2 separate regions of the Homo sapiens genome follow, and region 2 is linked to region 1. Evidence: fine-mapped expression QTL. A gene starts in region 1. The other region holds a variant in brackets. All regions are shown on one strand. Distances are from middle to middle.

Region 1 (4,000 bases):
TTGTTTATTGCTAGTGTGTAAAACTATAACTGATGTTTAAATATTGATCTTATATCCTGCAGTTTTGCTGAACTTGCTTATTGGCTTTATTTTTTTTATAATGGATTTCCCAAGATTTTCTATATATAAAATCATGTCATGTGAAAGTAGCGATAGTTTAATTGTTCCTTTCTTATCTGGATGCCTTTCATTTCTTTTTCAGGCTAGAACTGCAAGTACAATATTGAACAGAATTGGTGAGAGGGGACATCCTTGTTAAAGGTGCACTTTTGATAGGGTTAAAAGACCAGTGTTCAACACTTTCCAATCCTGACTTCGGGCAAATCATTTACCCTTTCTGTTTCCTTATCTAAAATAGAAAATAACAGCCTATAGTGTACGCGGGTGGTCGTGTCTGCTTTTTAGAAGCCCATGAGCTAGTGGGGAAGCAAATGATTCATGGAAATAATTATAAAAACAAGGTAACATATGCTAAGAGTTATTAGGGCTATGAATGATACATCTTGGATACCCTATTAGATAATTTGTGGTGAAAAATTTGTAAACAATCTTGTGCTAAATAGAGAAATGGTTTAAAAATTTAAGATACCAATAACTTGCTTTCACTGTCACCTACATTAGTTTGGTTCCATTTTTAACAGTCTTTTATTACAAACTGATATAATCATAGCATAACTAAATTCAACCCTCTTCTCTATAAAATAGATCTCGGTTTGTAGGGTTTTACTATGATTTTGCATGCCATTTGATGTCCACAGGTATTTTTTAAGTCAAAAGGAAATCTGTAAATTAGGAACTGTTAATTTCCTCTTCATTTGGGCATCCTAGGTAGACTGTACAGATTTGTTCCAAGCACCCCATTAATTTGAGATTAGCCTAAGTTTTTCCTATGCCCGCACTTTGGAATATAAACATGTAGAAAATAGTCCATGACACAGCGGATGGGTTCATAAGTTTCTTCCGGGTCCTAACACCGAATTGTGCTGATGATCTGGCAATGGAGGCTAATCTTGCCACATCAAGTACGGCCTATTCGCTAAGCCGTCTGGGGCACTTTATAATTTTTTTCTTTGCTGGTCTGTTTGAAGGGCTCCTATGGCCAAAAAGGTGGTCAGTCCCGTCAGCTAGGCTGTGAGGACGCCTAAACGCTTTGAGGACGCCTAAACGCTTTGAGGTAGTGATGATGCATGATCGTGTGAAAGAGTTTCTCAGAGCACCTCCCTCGCGGGGTGGGGAAAAGGACCTCACTCCCCACGCCCCCTCCTTCCGCTGCGGGAGATAGCCACACCTTCCCCCTATCGGCGCCAAGCAGGTGGCCAGGCCCTCGGGACCTCGCGCCCCCGCAGCCAGTGGCCCGGCCAGCTCGTGCGTCACGTGACGCGGGTCAGCTGCACCGCCGGGACCTCCAGGCACCGCGGCGGCGACCGCCCAGCGCGTGGTCTCGAGATCTCATCTTTCCGCGCCCCTCCCCCCACGGTCCCGGAAAAGGGGGAGGCCGGTGACGTCATCATCCGGGTTCTTGTCGGCGGGGCTACGGTTCACAATGGAACAAAAACAAGCGGCCCGAGTCAAACTATGAGCGACGCGGCTGCGGCTCACGCGATTAACCCTGTCGTGGCCACACACCCCGCCAGTCCCTGCCGCCCAGCCCCTCCCGAGTGGTGTGCCAGATCTTTTCGGGCCTCCCTTCCCCAACTTCGGTCCTAGAGCCACCTCTGCCCTCGTCCCGCTCCTGAGCCGAGGGGCATGGAACAGGATTTCTGGCCGTAGCACGACCCTGAAGGGGCCAGCCGGAAGAAACAGTACTGCGCGAACAATCTTTACCGCATTGTCTTCCCCTCCCCCACCCTAGCTCTCCGGGTTCCCGGCGGCTCGCGCCGAAGCCCGGCCCCCTCAGCGGCTCGCGCTGCTCTCCCAGCCTTGACGGCCCGGGGTGGAGGGAGAGAAGAGGGGGCAGCTGAGCGGGAGGGGGCTGGGCAGGAGCAGGGGGAGGGCCGAAAGGAGGGGCCTGAAAGGGGCGGGCCCTGACGGGGGCGGAGAACTTCGGGTCTTGGGCGGCTCTGGGGCTAGTGGGAGTCTGCGCCGCCGCCGCCGCCGCCACCGCTGCTGCCGCCGTCGCCGCTACCGCCGCCGCCACTGGCCGAGCGGTTTTTTTTTTTTTGGTTTGCCGGATCCGCCATATTGACGAGGACGGGCATCCGCGGCTGCGGACGCTAGTCTCCGCCGCCGCCGGAGCCGCAACCTCTCCGCACCCGGCCCCGTCAGGGCCTCTGTCGCGCCTAGCCCCTCCCCGCCTTACACAGCTCCCGGGCCTCGCGGGAGCCCGCCGCCGCCGCCTCTCTCTCACGGGAGGCGGCCGCCTTAGCGCCCGGTGCTTGGGTCGGCGCCGGGAGCGAGGAGCGAGCTACTTCAAAGCCACCAGGCCTGGAGCGGGGACAGAGGCGGCGACTAGGGGAAGGTGAAGCCGTCGCTGCAGGAGGAGGAGCAGGAGGAGGTGACGCAGGAGAAACGCACCGCCCGGAGCCCGTCTGAGCTCAGCGAGAGCCCCAGCCTGAGGGGAGAAGGGGAAGAGGGCCGTCGCCGGCCAAGGAGGAGGAGGAGGCGGGCGCGGCGAGGAGCGAGTTCCGGCGCCGGTGTGCAGCCTTTTGGTTGAGACGCCCGCAGCCCCGAGCCCGGCCGCCGCAGCCTTTCGATACACTTTGTTGCCGGTCACCCCCGGGCCTGGGATGCACCCAGGGTAGGTCTCGTCCCGGGACCGAGCCCCACCGTCGCCTGGTGCCTCCCGCCTCCGTGTGCCCTGGTTGTGAGAAGACGTCTGTGTCGTGCGGTGAGTGGCCAGCTGCACTGGGGCGACGCTCTTTCCCGGGGCCAACAGCTGGATGTGGGTGAGGGGAGGAGGGCGAGGGGGGTGTGCGTGTGTGCGAGCCTCTTCCCTCGGCGGCTGCCGGCCAGGCTGGGGCTTCCCCGTTCCCCCTCCTCCGGCCCGGGCTGGGCGGGCGCGCGGGCCCGTGTTGTGTGTGGAGCCGGTGTCCCGAGAGCGTGTCTGTGTGTTTTGGACTGTAAGGGAAAATGGCTGACGGCTCCGTCCCTCCCCCTCCTCCCCCTTCCCGTCCTGTCTGGGGCCGAGTAGGAGGATGGAGTCTCCGGGCGTGGCGGGCAGCCCCCCCGCCGTCCGCACCCGGGGGCCGGGTCGGTTTGGGGGCTGGCCGCCCCCCGCCCGGCGGCCGCTTTCCTACCCGGTCTGGTTCCACTTGACACCAAACGCCATTACTGAGGTGGAGTGATTTGGAGCTGGGGAGCTAGGCCTCGGCTACGCCTGGCTATCAGGCCTGACGACTTGTCCGCCTCCCCCCACCCTCCCGCGATAACCCGCAGTTTCTCCCCGGCCCTGGGCTCCTGGAGTGGGAGCTGGGTTATCGGCCTCCTACACCTCCTTCGCCCCGCTTTATTTGCAGAGGGCCAAAGCCGTGAAAGGGGTTTTTGAATGCAGAAATCGCTTCCAAGCTAGCTTGGACCTATTACCTTTCTATTTTTAACTGTTTCTGCAAATATTAGCATGTGCGAGTTTGGTAGTGATCAGGTCTTCAGATTCTTGTGACGTGAGGCTTAGGGTTGGATAAATGGCTGATTTTTCATTCATTGTGAAATAAGTTAAAGAGTTATACAGCAGGTGTGTAGATGGCTTCTTAAATTATTTGTGTGGATTTCTGTAGCGACTAGAACTTACACGAGAATTTGCAAAATTTCTAGTAGAACCTGCTTAAATTAAGCATGTTATTTTTTGGAAGTTCCATAGTTACAACGTTAATTGAATTTACACGGTGCAGTTTACAGGTGTATATAATTGCTTCAGATTGTCTTTTAGTTTAAATAAGCAAGTTGTAGGTATAGATTAAATATTCATGCTTTATTTTTCGGGGAGAGAAGTATGTGTACTGTTCTTTTACCTGGAAACCCATGAGTCCCTAAATCTACTTAACGTTTGTATACTTTCACTTTT
Region 2 (4,522 bases), 130 kb after region 1:
TTTTTTCCTGTGGATTTTAATAGAACATCTGGTAACTTTGTCTTGTTTATTTTAGGTTGATACCGTAAAGCGCTTGCTGATTAAAAAATTACCTCCTGTTCTTGCTATACAACTAAAGCGATTTGACTATGACTGGGAAAGAGAATGTGCAATCAAGTTCAATGATTATTTTGAATTTCCTCGAGAGCTGGACATGGAACCTTACACAGTTGCAGGTGTCGCAAAGCTGGAAGGGGATAATGTAAACCCAGAGAGTCAGTTGATACAACAGAGTGAGCAGTCTGAAAGTGAGACAGCAGGAAGCACAAAATACAGACTTGTGGGTGTGCTCGTACACAGTGGTCAAGCGAGTGGGGGGCATTATTATTCTTACATCATCCAAAGGAATGGTGGAGATGGTGAGAGAAATCGCTGGTATAAATTTGATGATGGTGATGTAACAGAATGTAAAATGGATGATGACGAAGAAATGAAAAACCAGTGTTTTGGTGGAGAGTACATGGGAGAAGTGTTTGATCACATGATGAAGCGTATGTCATACAGGCGCCAGAAAAGGTGGTGGAATGCTTATATACTTTTTTATGAACGAATGGACACAATAGACCAAGATGATGAGTTGATAAGATATATATCAGAGCTTGCTATCACCACCAGACCTCATCAGATTATTATGCCATCAGCCATTGAGAGAAGTGTACGGAAACAGAACGTACAATTCATGCATAACCGAATGCAGTACAGTATGGAGTATTTTCAGTTTATGAAAAAACTGCTTACATGTAATGGCGTTTACTTAAACCCTCCTCCCGGTGAGTATCAAGAGAGTTTAGCTTCTTAGTAATAAAGAATAATTTATAGTAGGCGTCAACATGTTTAAGTTCATAAAATTAATGTTTTCACTTTAAATGAGTCTAATTTGCTGGGTGTGGTGGTTCACGCCTGTAATCCCAGCACTTTGGGAGGCCGAGGTAGGTGGATCACCTGAGGTCAAGAGTTCAATACCAGCCTGACCAACATGGTGAAACCCCATCTCTACTAAAAATATAAAAATTAGCCAGGCATGGTGGCATGCACCTGTAGTCCCAGCTACTCCCTGTAGTCCCAGCTACTCCGGAGGCTGAGGCAGGAGAATCGCTTGAACCTGGGAGGTGGAGGTTGCAGTGACCCAAATTGATGGCCACTGCACTCCAGCCTGGGTGACAGTGAGTCTCCATCTCAAAAAAATAAAATAAAAAAATAAATGGGTCTAAATTAAAGTAGCCTGAGAAGGGTTCTTAACAAATTTAGGACTTCTCAAAATTAATGGAAACACAGACTTGTTTGAAAATGGGGTTGGAAAATAAAAATGTGTTTTTATATCTGCATTTTATTTATAGGGCAAGATCACCTGTTGCCTGAAGCAGAAGAAATCACTATGATCAGTATTCAACTTGCTGCTAGGTTCCTCTTTACTACAGGATTTCACACAAAGAAAGTAGTCCGTGGCTCTGCCAGTGATTGGTACATTGCTTTGGATTTTCATTCCTATTATACTAATGTTTGGTTTGCTTCTTTAATAGATTGCTTTATGTTTTTCTAAACCAAGAGAATTTTGTTTGAAGTTTGGAATATAGAATAAAAACTCTGGGTCACAATAGAGAAATCATATTAAAATAGTTACTTAGTCTAAACATGGCCTTTTGTTATTCAGAAGCTGACTTCTGCTTCTATTACCTTGTATCATATCTTTGACATCCCTGCACCAAAGACTACAAGCTGAGACTGGGGGACAGTGACTCACACCTGTAATGCCAGCACTTTGGGAAGCCAGGGTGGGAGGATTGCTTGAGCTCGGGAGTTCAGGACCAGCCTAGGCAACATAGTGAGACCCCCATCTCTTCAAAGAAGATTTTAAAAATTACCCAAGTATGGTGGCGCACACCTGTAATCCCAGCTACTCGGAAGGCTGAGGTGGGAGGATCGCTGGAGCCTGGGAGGTTGAAGCTGCAGTGAGCCATGACTGTGCCACTGCACTCCAGCCTGGGCAGCAGAGCAAGACCCTGTCTCAAACAAAACCAAAGATTACAAGATGAGACTGAAAAGTGTAAGCTACTTATGA[A/C]ATTTATTAGGTTTTAGCTTACCTAGATTGAATTCTGACACCGATTAAAAGGGTAAAAAATTAAAATGGTTTTCTTAAGTTTCTAATTGTGAAAGTATAGAGGCCATTATGATACATTGATTTAATAATTTTTACTTACTCATTTCAGGAATATGTCAAGATAAGGGGGTGGTATTTTGTCATTGAATCTAGGAAGAGTTTGTTAATGGATTTTTAGAGGACAAGCTTTCACCTGTTTGGTAACTCTGAGAGAATAGACCAAGTCATAGTATTTATCTATTGTTTTAATATTAGAAGCAACCTTTGCTGGTTCTCTCCAGCAGTAGAGGAAGATCTTTGTCTTTTTTTTTTGGTTCAATGAGACTCATCCTTTTACTATAGAGAACAAGTTATTGACTTAATAGTCATAGGTTTTTTTGTTTTATTTTAGGTATGATGCATTGTGTATTCTCCTTCGTCACAGCAAGAATGTACGTTTTTGGTTTGCTCATAACGTCCTTTTTAATGTTTCAAATCGCTTCTCCGAATACCTTCTGGAGTGCCCTAGTGCAGAAGTGAGGGGTGCGTTTGCAAAACTTATAGTCTTTATTGCACATTTTTCCTTGCAAGATGGGCCATGTCCTTCACCTTTTGCCTCTCCTGGACCTTCTAGTCAGGTAATTGCACAGCTTTCTTTCTAAATGATGAGATGTTTACAAATAAATTGTGTTTCCTGGAAGTCGAAGTCACAAGCATATGTGCATCCACTTGATATGTTTACCTAACAGAAACACACAATATGATGTCAGTGAGTTCCATTTAATATTACTGCATGGCAATGAATAGTAATTATTGGCTCTTTAAAAATGTAAGAGAATTTTCTCTGTTCGGTTACATGCAGTAGCTTAATTATAAGTTTACTGTTAAGTAGATTTTTTCCTATTTTGAAGGTTTTTTAAATAGTCTTAGATTTTTTTAAAAAATTACAAGTGTAAAAAATTATAATGAAATCCGCCTCTGATCTTCATTCCCTTTCCCAAGAAGCAAAATAGTTTAGTTTGTGTGATCAGTCCTTCCATAAATGTATGCCTGTATCAGCATATGTGCATGTCCTTTTTATGCAAGTAGAAGTATACATATACCTTGTTGCTGTAAAACAGGTAATGTTTTATCCTTTACAGGCTTATGACAACTTAAGCTTGAGTGATCACTTACTAAGAGCAGTACTAAATCTCTTGAGAAGGGAAGTTTCAGAGCATGGGCGTCATTTACAGCAGTATTTCAACCTGTTTGTAATGTATGCCAATTTAGGTAAGAATTTAAGTTTTTCAGAATTCTGTTTTGATGTATCATATTAAATTGTGAAGTCATTTAGGTCAAGTGATGAAATATAATCTGATCTGAAGTAGAAACAATTTCCCATAAAACCTGTTGTGAATTTTATCTGAACATGGCACTTTCACCTTTTACTTTGTTTATGCATGTGTCTTTGTGGTAGACACAGGTCAGAATCTGTGTTTTGATTTTTTTTTTTTTTTAATCTCCTAATGCAGTGGTGCCAAATCTGGCTGCTTTTGGAAAATACTGGTTTCTAGGCCTCTTCTCACACTGATTGAATCAGCATCCCCAAAGCTAATGTCAGGGAATCCATGTTTTCAAAGGGGTCCCCAAATGGTTGTGATACTCACCAAATTTAGATAGCAGACTTGGTCTGTACATAAGTTTTTGTTTAAGTAAACTACAATTATGGATAATATAAATACTCGCTTAAAATATTAATTTAGGGGCCGGGCACAATGGCTTATGCCTGTACTCCCAGCACTTTGGGAGGCCAAGGCAAGAGGATTGCTTGAGCCCAGGAGACTAACCTAGGCACCATAGGGAGACCCTATCTCTACAAAATAAAATTTTAAAATTAGCTGGATGTAGTGGCATATGCCTGTAGTCCTAGCTACTTGGGAGGCTGAGGTGGGAGAATCACTTGAGCTAAGGAGGTTGAGGCTGCAGTGACCCGTGATTGCACCACTGCACTCCAGCCTGGGCAACAGAATGAGACCCTGTCTCCAAAAAGCAAACAAACCAAAAAGTCATATATCCAAAATGAAGTTCTATATCCAGGCGTACCTGTCGTTTCAGGTTTTTTTTCTGTGATCTTACTTAATCACCATTGGATCCATGGCCCTTTTAACATAAGGGAGATTGTACTTTTCATTTGTCTATTTAGTTTGTCTTCTTTTCCCTTGTCTTTTCCGTAATTGCAGATATTTGGGTATTTGTAGATGAGAAAGAGAATATTTATTACACAGACAAGCATAAGTGGAATCTGTATTTCAAACTTAAAAATGCCAAATTTAGACATTCAGAAGAATCCTATTCTGTTCAACTCTTTTAGATATTGCCTGTTCACAAAGCACACATCATTGTTCCATAATGTAACCTACTTGT

Direction of the effects. Positions count from the first base shown, and alleles are read on the strand shown. Sizes are in standard deviations (SD) of each study's normalised expression.
For the expression in skeletal muscle of the gene that starts at base 2,163 in region 1, allele A in region 2 goes with a lower level than allele C (small effect, 0.11 SD a copy in GTEx).

Evidence for each region. PIP is the estimated chance that this variant, and not a neighbour inherited with it, causes the effect.
Region 2: its variant is the best candidate, but not a certain one, in a credible set for the expression of USP9X in skeletal muscle (GTEx, PIP 0.53).

Annotation. Positions count from the first base shown.
Region 1 is chrX:41,083,283-41,087,282 of GRCh38, forward strand. It overlaps USP9X (ubiquitin specific peptidase 9 X-linked), which reads left to right and starts at 2,163. Exons shown (of 45, transcript NM_001039591.3): 1 at 2,163-2,827. RefSeq lists enhancers at 1,114-1,408, 1,158-1,697, 2,236-2,773 and silencers at 1,318-1,387, 1,818-2,197, 2,898-3,357.
Region 2 is chrX:41,215,844-41,220,365 of GRCh38, forward strand. It overlaps USP9X (ubiquitin specific peptidase 9 X-linked), which reads left to right. Exons shown (of 45, transcript NM_001039591.3): 35 at 56-809; 36 at 1,377-1,500; 37 at 2,529-2,754; 38 at 3,259-3,388. Among named protein-coding and RNA genes, the nearest start is that of LINC02601, 58 kb to the right of the region's middle. The variant A/C (reference allele first, on the strand shown) is at 2,099.